Linked DNA regions of Homo sapiens: all the other regions are linked to region 4. Evidence: fine-mapped QTL for protein levels in blood plasma. A gene starts in region 4. Each other region holds a variant in brackets. All regions are shown on one strand. Distances are between the middles of the regions.

Region 1 (2,675 bases), 17 kb before region 4:
TGGGACTACAGGCACCCGCCGCCACGCCGAGCTAACTTTTTTGTATTTTTAGTGGAGACGGGGTTTCACCGTGTCAGCCAATATGGTCTCGATTTCCTGACCTCGTGATCCACCCAACTCGGCCTCCCAAAGTGCTGGGATTACAGGCGTGAGCTACCATTTTTTTCCTTTAAAAAAATTTTTTGGGTGTGCCCAGTGGCTCACATCTGTAATACCAGCAATTTGGAAGGCCAATGTGGGAGGATCACTTGAGCCCAAGAGTTCAAGACCAGCCTGGGCAACATAGGGAGACCCCCCCCCCCCATCTCTACAATAGGATTATAAAAATTAGCTGGGCTTGGTGGTACATGCCTGTAGTCCCGCCTACATGGGAAGCTGAGGTGGGAGGATCACTTGAGCCCAGGAGTTTGAGGCTGCTGTAAGCTATGATCGCACCACTACACTCCAGCCTGAGTAACAGAACAAGAACTTGAAAATAAAATCTTGTTTGTTAACATTTATTAAGCATTTAGTATGAGCCAAGCGTTTTTCTAAGTGCTTTACATAGATTTGTTCATGCAATCCTCATAGCAACTCAGTGAATTAAATAATATTTTAATTCCCATTTCATGGAGAAATAGACTGGGACACAGAAAAGTTTAGAAATAATGGCTCATGAGAGGGAATGGTAACAGAGCCTACACTCTTCTTGATACTTATATTCTGGAGAAGAAGAATGAACATGGCTTAGTGAAACATTTCAGTACGTATACAAGTCCACAAACATGGCACTAACCAATGAAAGCATCTAAATAAATGTGAAGTCCTTAGAAGAACAGAACAGAAACAGCCTTCCAAAGACTAACTTCATCAGCTCACACTTAGTAAGTCCTGATAACATTGCAAGTATAAAAAAGAAGAAGGATGCCAGGAGATTTCAACATAAAATACATCTCACATGACTGTCCTGAGAAAAATTCAACTAAATTAATGAAAACTGCAAAGATATGCATAAATATGGGGTCAGCTCTGAAATCTGCCAACTTACCAATAATTTATAATCACGAGGATCATACTGAAACAGTCTGATACCAGGATTGTTGGTCTGTTTTTCTAAAACACTCTTCACTGGTGTAACAGCAGGAGC[C/T]ACAAACAAAGAATTTACTGGACTTCCTGAACAAAACGTATGCACATAAACATACATTTTTAAATAAGAGTTTAACTATATTAAAAATATAAAGTTTCCAGATTAAGAGATTAACAGACATAACCAAGTGATATGTGATCACTAATGGATACTGACTTGAAACAACTGTAAAGAGACAATTTGGAGAAAATAGGGACATTTTTGTTATTGATACCAGATAATTATTGTTGATTTTGTTAACTAAGTTTGTGGTTATGTAAATTATCCATATATTTTAGCAATGAATATAGAATATGTAGTGCCAAAATGGATCCAGTGTTTGAGATTCACTTTCAAATACTCCAGCAAAAAATTAAAAGAATATAAGGCCAGGTGCAGTGGCTCATGCCTGTAATCCCAGCACTTTGGGAGGCCGAGGCGGGCAGATCACTAGGTCAAGAGATCGAGACCTTCCTGGCCAACATGGTGAAATTAGCTGGGCGTGGTGACACACATGTAGTCCCAGCTACTCGGGAGGCTGAGGCAGGATAATCACTTGAACCAGGGAGGCAGAGGTTGCAGTGAGCCGAGATCGCAGGGTGCGCTCCAGCCTGGCAACAGAGCGAGGCTCCGTCTCAACAACAAAACAAAAAAACTGAAAAATCTTGATAGATGTTGAATGTGAGTGTTGAGTACATAGGAGGTTTGTTTGTATCATTCTCTCTGCTTATATATGTATCAATAAGAACTTGCAAGTAAGAGCTTAATATATTTTATTTTAAGCCGTTGTGTAAATTGTGCTTTGCTTTCTAAATTCTGAGAAATAAAACATGTAGCATCAAAAGAAACTTGAGTGTAGCAGTTAAAATAGAGTGATATTTCTTTAAACTCGAAGATTTAAAAGAACATTTGAGTGAGCTGAGGGTTTCTGAGGCTTTTGTGTTGACAGCAAATAAGTAACGCTGGCCCTGTGGAGCTAATAGGAGCTTACGTTGAAGAAATCCAGCTGCAGGCCTAATGTTGTGATTTGGACACTCATCATACAACCATTGAGGATAATTCAGAAAAGGCTAATGCTGGCAGATTTTTAAATAAAACGTTTAATTTACTAAATCAGCAAATTTACTGGATATTCACCGCTTTGCTCTAGACTCTTAGACTGGGGAGATGCAAACACAGCATTACATTACCTTTTTTATCTGAAAGAACCATAATGCTGTCTCTGTGAGTGTGTCCATAAAATTGTCCTGCAATGACATCACTGTATTTTTGAAAAATATCTATCAATTTCTCATTATAGTATTCTCTCATTGCTGTGATGTTCTGTGAAGATGGCAGATACCCCACTGGAACATGTGCTATGATATACACCTGGAAAAAGAAACACAAAAAGGCCTCATGAGAATCTTTCTGCACATTCATCATAACTAAATGACATTTGGATACCCAAGATTGAAAGTATATTAATTAAAATTTAGAAAGCAAATATATCATCTCTTCTATTTATAAGAAAAAGAGATGAAATTATAAAACTATTAGGGTCACTATATTTGTACACTGTTGATGATAT
Region 2 (2,687 bases), 38 kb after region 4:
AATTGGAATTTCATTATAAAGCCAGAGAGAAACGGTTAGTCTCGCAGACAGAATTTTTTTCAGAGAGCTGCTAAGCATTTTGTCTAGAGTAAGCATCTTTCTTTTGCTTTGCCTTTATGAAAATGGCATTTTGTCTTTAGCTGGGACTCTTAAAGAAACCACAGCAAAAAACAATGGAAACAACACAGGCTTAGTTAGTGGACTCAACAAACCAGAGAGAGACCACTAACCCTATGCAAGCCTCAGCTTGACTAATAACTTTCTTGAACTAAGCAGGTGATGGCAAAAGACTAGGCAATAACAATGTAGAGGGGGTAGAGATGGCTAAAATTTTGGGTTGGGAAACAGACTACACTGTCTGTAAACTCTAAATAGAGCCACAAGGCTTACTTCGCTGGAGACTATCCAAATTCACCCATGGTGTCCTGGCATAATTATTAAGTGTCCCCTTTCACTTTCAGAAGTGTACTAGCTTAGACAAAGGTCCAAGAGATTCTATCTATAGAAAAACCAACTCTTCACCCCTTATGCAAGAAGTTTCCTCAGAGCTTATTCATAAAGGAGAAATTCAGCCAGCATCATGCCAATATCTCCAGGAGGGTAAGGTTGGGGGTGGGAATGGCTTAGGCCAACATTTAGAGGAAAGAAATCCCCTATATATAAAATGTTGACAATTCTAGCCAAAGAGATTGCAGATGTAACCCACTATTTAGGTTTAACCCTGCAGAGGGGTTAGGAAATATTACCCATAGAACCACAGAGTGCATGCATGCATGATTGAGGGACTTACTATTTTTGTGAAATAGATTCTGTACAGAAAACTAATTCTCACCCTTTTAAAGATTGCAGGCAAGGATGAACACATCTAAATGAGAAGTCAATTTTCTTCCTCAGAACACAGAGTTACTAGAACAAAATAACATTTTGAAATATAAATCATTGATTTTTTTATATTTGCTCCTTTGCCTTTTCCTCAATCAAATTAGTACATTAGAAAAGTTGCTAGGGGAGGTTTGCTAACAAAGAAAATTGGGAGATGGTGGTGGGGTTAGGGGTGGAAAGCTGGGGTGGGTGGTGGTTTTTCAGTTACAGAAGTCAAAGCATTTGGGTTTGGGGACCCAGGGATATAAACAATGGGCCTGAGAGAATGTCTGCTGACATAAGAGCCAGTCCTCCAGCTCAGGTTTTATAAGATCTGTAGGAAATAAAGATGACCTGGGTTGGGGCAGAGGGATGAGAGGAAAGCAAGGAGGGAGATGGGGAGGAAGCAAGAGAGCCTGGGAGCTAGCAAGGCCCTGAGGAGCCCCAGATTCCTTTGCCGGCTTCCCTTCCTCAGGCTGAGTGCTGAAATAGGTGTACAAGGTAGAAATCCTTCTTAAATTTGGAAGGATATGA[G/A]GGTTGAAGCGTTTGTACCTCAGTTCCCAGGTGGAGTGGAAGGTGGAAAGCTTTGTTGAGTTCTGCAGCATAGCAGAGCATAATAATAGAATGTGCCATTTGCATTATTTAAATAGATGTCTCTGACACAGAATTTCCGAGCTGAATGTTTCTTATGTGCTCAAAAAAAGTGAAAATAACTAAGTGTAAAGTGAAACCAGAAGGGTCTTTTAGACAGGATGTGGTAGTAACTATGTGGAAGCTTTAAAGGAAGACTTCTCGGCATAGATGCCTGCATGCATAGATGGTGAAAATTGAGGACAAGATGCACCCACAGTACCTGGCTTCCTCACAGCCCATCACCATCACCTGCAATATAGGGACAACAGGAAGGATGAGGCAGTAAGAATAGAAGCACACATTTATGTAGGGACCAGGCATGTAGTTTACATATTCTGTGTAGTTTACGTATATTAACACACTTAATTCTCACAACCACCCTATGATGTAAATACCACTATAGTACTCACTTTATGGATGAGAAAACAGGCATGCAGAGGTTAAGAATAAAAATTCTGAATTAATTTAGAGTAAGTGGAACTAATTGACAACAATTTTATGATACCTTCTAGACTAGAGAACTCAAAGAAAAAAATTTAAGCACACATATTTATTTATTCATAATACATATGATTTTATTGCATACCTAAATTTTCACACAGACATGTGAACCCACTAAAGATATCTATTGGGAATTATGAGGTGATATATAAACCAGCTAATAAAGACTGAAAATAACAGCATAATTGGCATGAAAACACAGAAAAAGTCAGAGTAACTCAAGCAGTCCAAAAGAACAGGCAAAGCTTCAAAATCCGAACTTTTCAGCGTAGTCTCTCAACTTTCCCTTATTCTTCCACTCATCAGCTAACTCCTGACTTCAGTTTTCTCTCTTCACTGGCTTTGCCTGAGACTAAAGTCTGCTTTTATCAACACCTTAAATTATCACACAACATTCCGGTTTAGACCAAGTTTCTTGTCTTCTTTGTTTAGTTCTTCCTTTAACAGCAGTGGGGCCCAGGGGAGGGTAAAAATAAGGCTCACATACCATTAAACATATGTCTTATCTCCCTACCTTGCCAAATACACTTTCCTAATGAAAAAATCCAAAGACATGGGTAACAAACACTATGGTTTCATAAGGCTGAAAACTAGCAAGATATCAAAGACAAATGAATTTAGTTATTATTGCACATGTCTGGTTGTACTGTTGATGCATGATTAATGTATAAATCAGTAATAAAGACAAGTTT
Region 3 (2,687 bases), 12 kb before region 4:
AATGACAACAGGTCTCACTAGGGCCTCTGGGATGACAAAGTTTGAGGCCCCTCATGCAAGACATCTCTGCCCCAAATCACTTTTGCCTTTAAGACTTTCTCAGGATGGCTTCTATGATTTTTAACTTAATATTATACTCCAGTGTTTAACTGGATCTTTGAGGGCTATCATTGGAATGGATATCATTATGAAACTCATATGGCTTTTTCTTAGGGCCTGCATTCCACTTCTCAGCTTTTTTCTGCCTCCCCTGCTTTATGCTGAGTCTCCTTAGAAGGCAGAGCATTTCTTTAGGGATCTTGATCATTCTTTATGGCTCTCCCTTCAACCTGCATAAGCTCTCCACGTGTCTTGTAGGATGTGAAGTGTAAGACTAGACATAGGCCGGGCACGGTGGCTCATGCCTGTAATCCCAGCACTTTGGGAGGCTGAGGCAGGTGGATCTCCTGAGGTCAGAAGCCCGAGACCAGCCTGACCAACATAGTGAAACCCTATCTCTACTAAAAATACAAAAATTAGCCAGGTGTGGTGGCAGGTGCCTGTAATCCCAGCTACTCAGGAGGCTGCAGCAGGAGAATCGCTTGAAACCAGGAGGCAGAGGTTGCTGTGAGCCAAGACCATGCCATTGCACTCCAGCCTGGGCAACAAGAGTGGAACTCCATCTTAATAAAAAAAAAAAAAAAAAAAAGACTAGATATAGTTCCCTAGATTAATCAGAACCATAGTCTAATTCTAAGCTATCATGTCTCAAATTCATATATACTATGATTTGCTGCATGCTAGCAAAAACAATAACAAAATAGTGGCAAAAGCCAAAGGGTTAACAAAAATACCGAAAGAAGTATTTTAACTGAGAGAAGTCTAGCCATTAACTTAATATTTGTCTCAACATTCTGAAAACACCAAAGTCTTAGTTTAACAGCTGCACACCTCAGTTAAGCTCACAAAATGTCAGGGATTTACATAATGATGTGTCAAGAGCCAGTGGAGCAGAGGGCCTTTAGACATGACCCAGGGAAGGCCTTACTATGCACTAATTATGCATTACTTTCCCAAGCACCTCAAAGTCCATGTTAAAAGCTTAGTTATCCTCACTTTACCAGCTCTTTGTTTTATAAAATTGTGCTGCTTGGTTAGAAGTTAGTGTCCATTCTCTCTTCTCAATCAATTTTCCAATTAGAAACATACACTTTTATTTACATTCAAATCCAAAGTTCAGCTTTTGCTCCATGGGGAACATACCTACCTAATTAAGAGTAGAAGAAGAAAAAAGAATAGAAGAAAAACAGGAAGAGCTCCCTGCAAGATAAACAGGTTCACGACCTGTGTCACAGGCAGCATTACTACTCACTGTCCTCCACAAAAACTGGGGGCTGTGCTCCAGAAGTGGCACACTCAAGCAAACATTAAAAATTTAAGTCTAAATAACATGAATAAAAATTGAGGCAAAATAGGAATAACTAAGTCTTTCACTTACCTTTCCTTAAAGTACTAATAGCTTCTTCATCTAGCCATGGTTTCCAGAGGTTTGCTACTGCATTGTACACTTTACTGGTGACTACAGGCAGTTGATCCTGGCCACAAACAATATAATCCACCATTGAAATTTAAAGATACACAGCTGAATTAATGTAAAC[A/G]CTACTTGAGCACTGACTACTACGTTAGGCATCTAGAGATGCAAGGATGATTATTAGATAGACTTCATCTTCAAGGAATTATAACTTAGTTGGAGACTGGGGGATAAAATGTAACCAATTAACTATAAGACAATGTGCTGGGCACTACCCAGAGGTCCGGGGAGCCTAGAAGCAAGAACAATCAAGTGTAGCCAAGGGCCAGGTGCAGTGGCTCATGCCTATAATCCCAGCACTTTGGGAGGCCAAGGCAGGCGGATCACTTGAGGTCAGAAGTTCAAGAAGTGTCTGGCCAATATGGTGAAACCCCATCTCTACTACAAACACAAAAATTACCCAGGCATGGTGGTGAGCACCCATAATCATAGCTACTTGGGAGGCTGAGGCAGGAAAATCACTGGAATCCGTGAGGCGAAGGTTGCAGTGAGCCAAGATCGCACCACTGCACTTCAGCCTGGGCAACTGAGTGAGGCTCTGGCTCAAAAAACAAAAAAACAAACAAACAAACAAACAAAAAAGGTGTAGCCCAGGGAATTAGAGAGTGAAGAGACTATTTAAGCCAGGCCTTAAATAAGGACTTTATCAACTTAACAAAAGGGCATCAAAGCAAATGCAATGGCCCAGATACAAACATAGGCATAGGCATAGGCACAGGCAAAAGCACAGAGTTCCATAGGTGTGTACCATGTACAGAGAAAAGCTCATGTTTTAGCATGGCTAGGATATGGGAAGGATGTGGGAGTGTGCTCATTAAAGAGATGCCAAAGGCAGGTTTGAGCCTGCACATGCACTGCCCGATGCAGCATGCCGAGGGAACGGGAAAACATCATGTTTTAGAATTTAACAAAGTCTTCTGAACTGTTCAAACTATTATAAGCTTCTTAACTCTTTGAATAAAGATTTACAACCACATGCTTTTGATTTGGAGAAGTCTCTTTAGGGCAGCATAAATTATATCAAAATATTTTGATTTTTTAAATAACACATTTTAAGTACAAAACATTTTTATTATCATAAAGTATCTTCAGGATGACATAAGCTCTAGTGTAGAAG
Region 4 (2,687 bases):
TCCCAAACAGGAGGTGTGAAGACTCACAGAGTCCCCAGAAAGCGCTCATTCAGGCCTCTTTAAAACACAGGTGAATTTGCCATTGTGTGGCCTCAAGCAACGTGAGACATTTTATTTCAAAACCCTAACCGGTCACATAATTAAAGGAACACAAGCTAAGCCGTAATAAAAGCAGAAACCAGTATACATAAACATTTTGGGGAAATTTCTTGTAATGACTGACATTTGCCACAGTTCGGAAACCAGATTTACAGTTTTTGCTTCAGACCTGACAGCTGAGTCGTGAGGACTTGGCCTTCAAAGAGAAGATATTTGCCCTAGAGCGCTCCCAAGTCCTGAGAAAGCACAGAGGGAGCGAAAGAGGTTTCAGCACTAGGTGCTGCTACCGAGTCTCAGGGACAACTCTCCCCTAAAAGAAAACAGAACCCCACTTCTCTAATTTTGTTTTTCCTCTTAACAGTGCAATTATTTTTAAAGGGAGTTGAGGAGGTGAGGGCACCTTGATTTTTGGAACTGGAGGCTCGGATGGCATTGTACAATCTCCCACCAAAATGTATCTATTCTGGACCAGTGAGTCTCAAACTTAGCCGAAAGGAATCATGCGGAGGGTGGGTTAAACAGCATACTGTGGAAGCCCAACGCCGGCGTTTCAGATTCAGTAGGTCTGGGATGGGCTGGAAATTTGCAATGCTAACAATTTTAAGTGCGGCGGCTGCTGCCACCGGTCCAGGGCACACTTAAGAGAATCACTACTGTAACGGGCACTGTGTTAAGTGCTGGGAGTGAATAAAATGGGTCCCGCCCGCAGGAAACCTAGTGGACATCCAGGTGAAATGAAGTCCCCGTGAGTTCCACGGTAGACTAAGGGGTGAGTCTACCCGAGGGTGCTTTCGCGCTCTGGCTGGGTGAGTGGCAGAAAAAGCCACTGATCTCGGTCGAGCAAGACAGAAGATAGTGTGAGTCACGCTGAAATTTACTTCCCTGAGCTGGTGGGGAAACTGCAGTCCCCCTCCATTCAGGACCGATTAGGGGCCTCTTGCTGTGCTGGACATCGGACTCCCAGCTTCCTCTTCCCTTGAGTCCCGCAGCTTTTCCTTCCTTCCCCAAGGAACAAAACAACTGAGATGCAGGATGTAAACAAAAGCCAGGCTGGCGAAATCCGGCCGACGCGCCCTTGGAGCGCCCCCACCGGCGAGGGCATTTCCCCCGCCCAGCCCCGGCCTCCCGGCTGGACGCCCTAACGCTGTAGTCCCTTGGTCGCCCTCCCCGCGCCCACCAGCCGTGGTCAACGCCGGACGCGTCAGGGGCCCCGCTAGCCCGAGCCTCTGCCGGGGGCAGCTGCCCCCACGCACTTTCTCCTGCTGTGCGCAGGCGCCGCCGCTCCGCGCTCTTTGCCGGCTGGGAAGAGAAGGGTCGCGGACAACTCACCTATCGCCGGAGGAGGATTCCTGCCGCCTGCGGGCGCCACGGGCAGCCCGAGGCCGGAGCGGCAGTGCCAGGCAGTCAGCAGGCAGCAGACGAGTGCGCGCACCAGCGCCATGGAGGGCCGCGGGGCTGACCTGGAGGTTCGGGCTGTCCCGCAGCTCCACTCGGACCGTCAGGCCTGAGGGTGAGGCGGAGACAGAAGACGGCTGCGGGTGTAGACGTCCGACTGATCACGTGCAAAGGCAGATTCCGCAGCGAGTCAGTTCGCCTGACCTTCAGCTGCTGTTTAGCGATGATCTGTTCTCGTATTTCTTAGCGTCAGTGTTTGGCCTAGGAAGGAATGTACTTGTAGAAGCTCAAATTCCGACTCGTGTATCAGTGGTGCAGTTGATGTCAAACACTGACATACTGGTGCTTGGGGATAGAGAAAGACATTCAATTTAGTAAAAGCCAGAAGGAGGGAGAACAAGATCTCTCAAATCCGTGTGTAAAAAGGAAAAAGCAGGGAGTTTTTATTCTGCTAGAGAATAAGAGAGGGGGATTTTCAAAGAATCCAGGGGAAAAGTCTGTTTCTTCAGTCTCAGATAACACCTTTGAGCAATTAGACGTCCAGGCATCCGCAGCTGGTTGCAAAGCCCTTGGAGGTATTCATCCCTTCTGCAAACATTTTTGTGACCCTGAAGTTAACCTCTTTGTTCTTGACGAGGAAGCAGTACCTCAGCAGTTTATAATTATATTGTGGAAACAAGGAGAATATTGGGCAAAAAGCGAGTGGTTAAAATGTGCAAGCAAGCAGGAGCCTGATCAGAATTTTCATTATTTCAGTCACTAAAAAATGCTGGGGTGCTGAAATCTCAACGATCCCGGTTCCATTCTTGGGCCAACCTACCCCAGCTTTAATGGGTAGGGCTCCTCAGTAGAGGTGATGCAGAGAGCCCTGAAGTATCATGATTTGAAGGAAATCAGCAAAAGTTATGGATACTGCAGTGGATCTCGAATTGAAGTCTCTGAACTGGGAACATTAGCACCACCTGGGAACTCTAGTTAGAAATGCAAATTCCCAGGCACCACCCTAGACCTGTTGAGTCAGAAACCTGCTGGAGCCCAGCAGTTTGTGTTTTCACAAGCATTTCAGGTCATGTTAAAGTGATTGTGATGTTTGAAAACCAATGCTCAAAGATACGACGTTTTGTTTTTTGTTTTTTTTAAACTGCCGGGAAGAGAAGGGTCTTAGAATTAGAACATGTTCTGAAATCATGCTT

Alleles and levels. Positions count from the first base shown, and alleles are read on the strand shown. Strength reflects both the effect of a copy and how common the allele is. Not every link is listed here.
With allele A in place of G in region 2, the plasma level of the protein whose gene starts at base 1,629 in region 4 is lower (moderate association).

The links. PIP is the chance, under the fine-mapping model, that this variant and not a neighbour inherited with it causes the effect. The UK Biobank Pharma Proteomics Project read protein levels with antibody pairs (Olink). The fine-mapping took linkage between variants from a reference panel, not from the people measured, so its PIPs are less certain.
Region 1: its variant is fine-mapped to the plasma level of the SMPDL3A protein (UK Biobank, PIP above 0.99). The variant lies in the coding sequence of SMPDL3A. If it changes the protein, the assay may bind it differently, which can mimic a change of level.
Region 2: its variant is fine-mapped to the plasma level of the SMPDL3A protein (UK Biobank, PIP 0.93).
Region 3: its variant is fine-mapped to the plasma level of the SMPDL3A protein (UK Biobank, PIP above 0.99).

What each region holds. Positions count from the first base shown.
Region 1 is chr6:122,804,710-122,807,384 of GRCh38, reverse strand. It overlaps SMPDL3A (sphingomyelin phosphodiesterase acid like 3A), which reads right to left. Exons shown (of 8, transcript NM_006714.5): 6 at 2,296-2,476; 7 at 1,028-1,152. Among named protein-coding and RNA genes, the nearest start is that of SMPDL3A, 17 kb to the right of the region's middle. The variant C/T (reference allele first, on the strand shown) is at 1,127.
Region 2 is chr6:122,750,437-122,753,123 of GRCh38, reverse strand. It overlaps a transcript of FABP7 not described here. Among named protein-coding and RNA genes, the nearest start is that of FABP7, 28 kb to the left of the region's middle. The variant G/A (reference allele first, on the strand shown) is at 1,396.
Region 3 is chr6:122,800,197-122,802,883 of GRCh38, reverse strand. It overlaps SMPDL3A (sphingomyelin phosphodiesterase acid like 3A), which reads right to left. Exons shown (of 8, transcript NM_006714.5): 4 at 1,478-1,574. Among named protein-coding and RNA genes, the nearest start is that of SMPDL3A, 12 kb to the right of the region's middle. The variant A/G (reference allele first, on the strand shown) is at 1,638.
Region 4 is chr6:122,788,200-122,790,886 of GRCh38, reverse strand. SMPDL3A (sphingomyelin phosphodiesterase acid like 3A) reads right to left here and starts at 1,629. Exons shown (of 8, transcript NM_006714.5): 1 at 1,429-1,629. The coding sequence starts at 1,540. RefSeq lists silencers at 1-203, 1,309-1,603 and enhancers at 818-1,317, 1,318-1,819.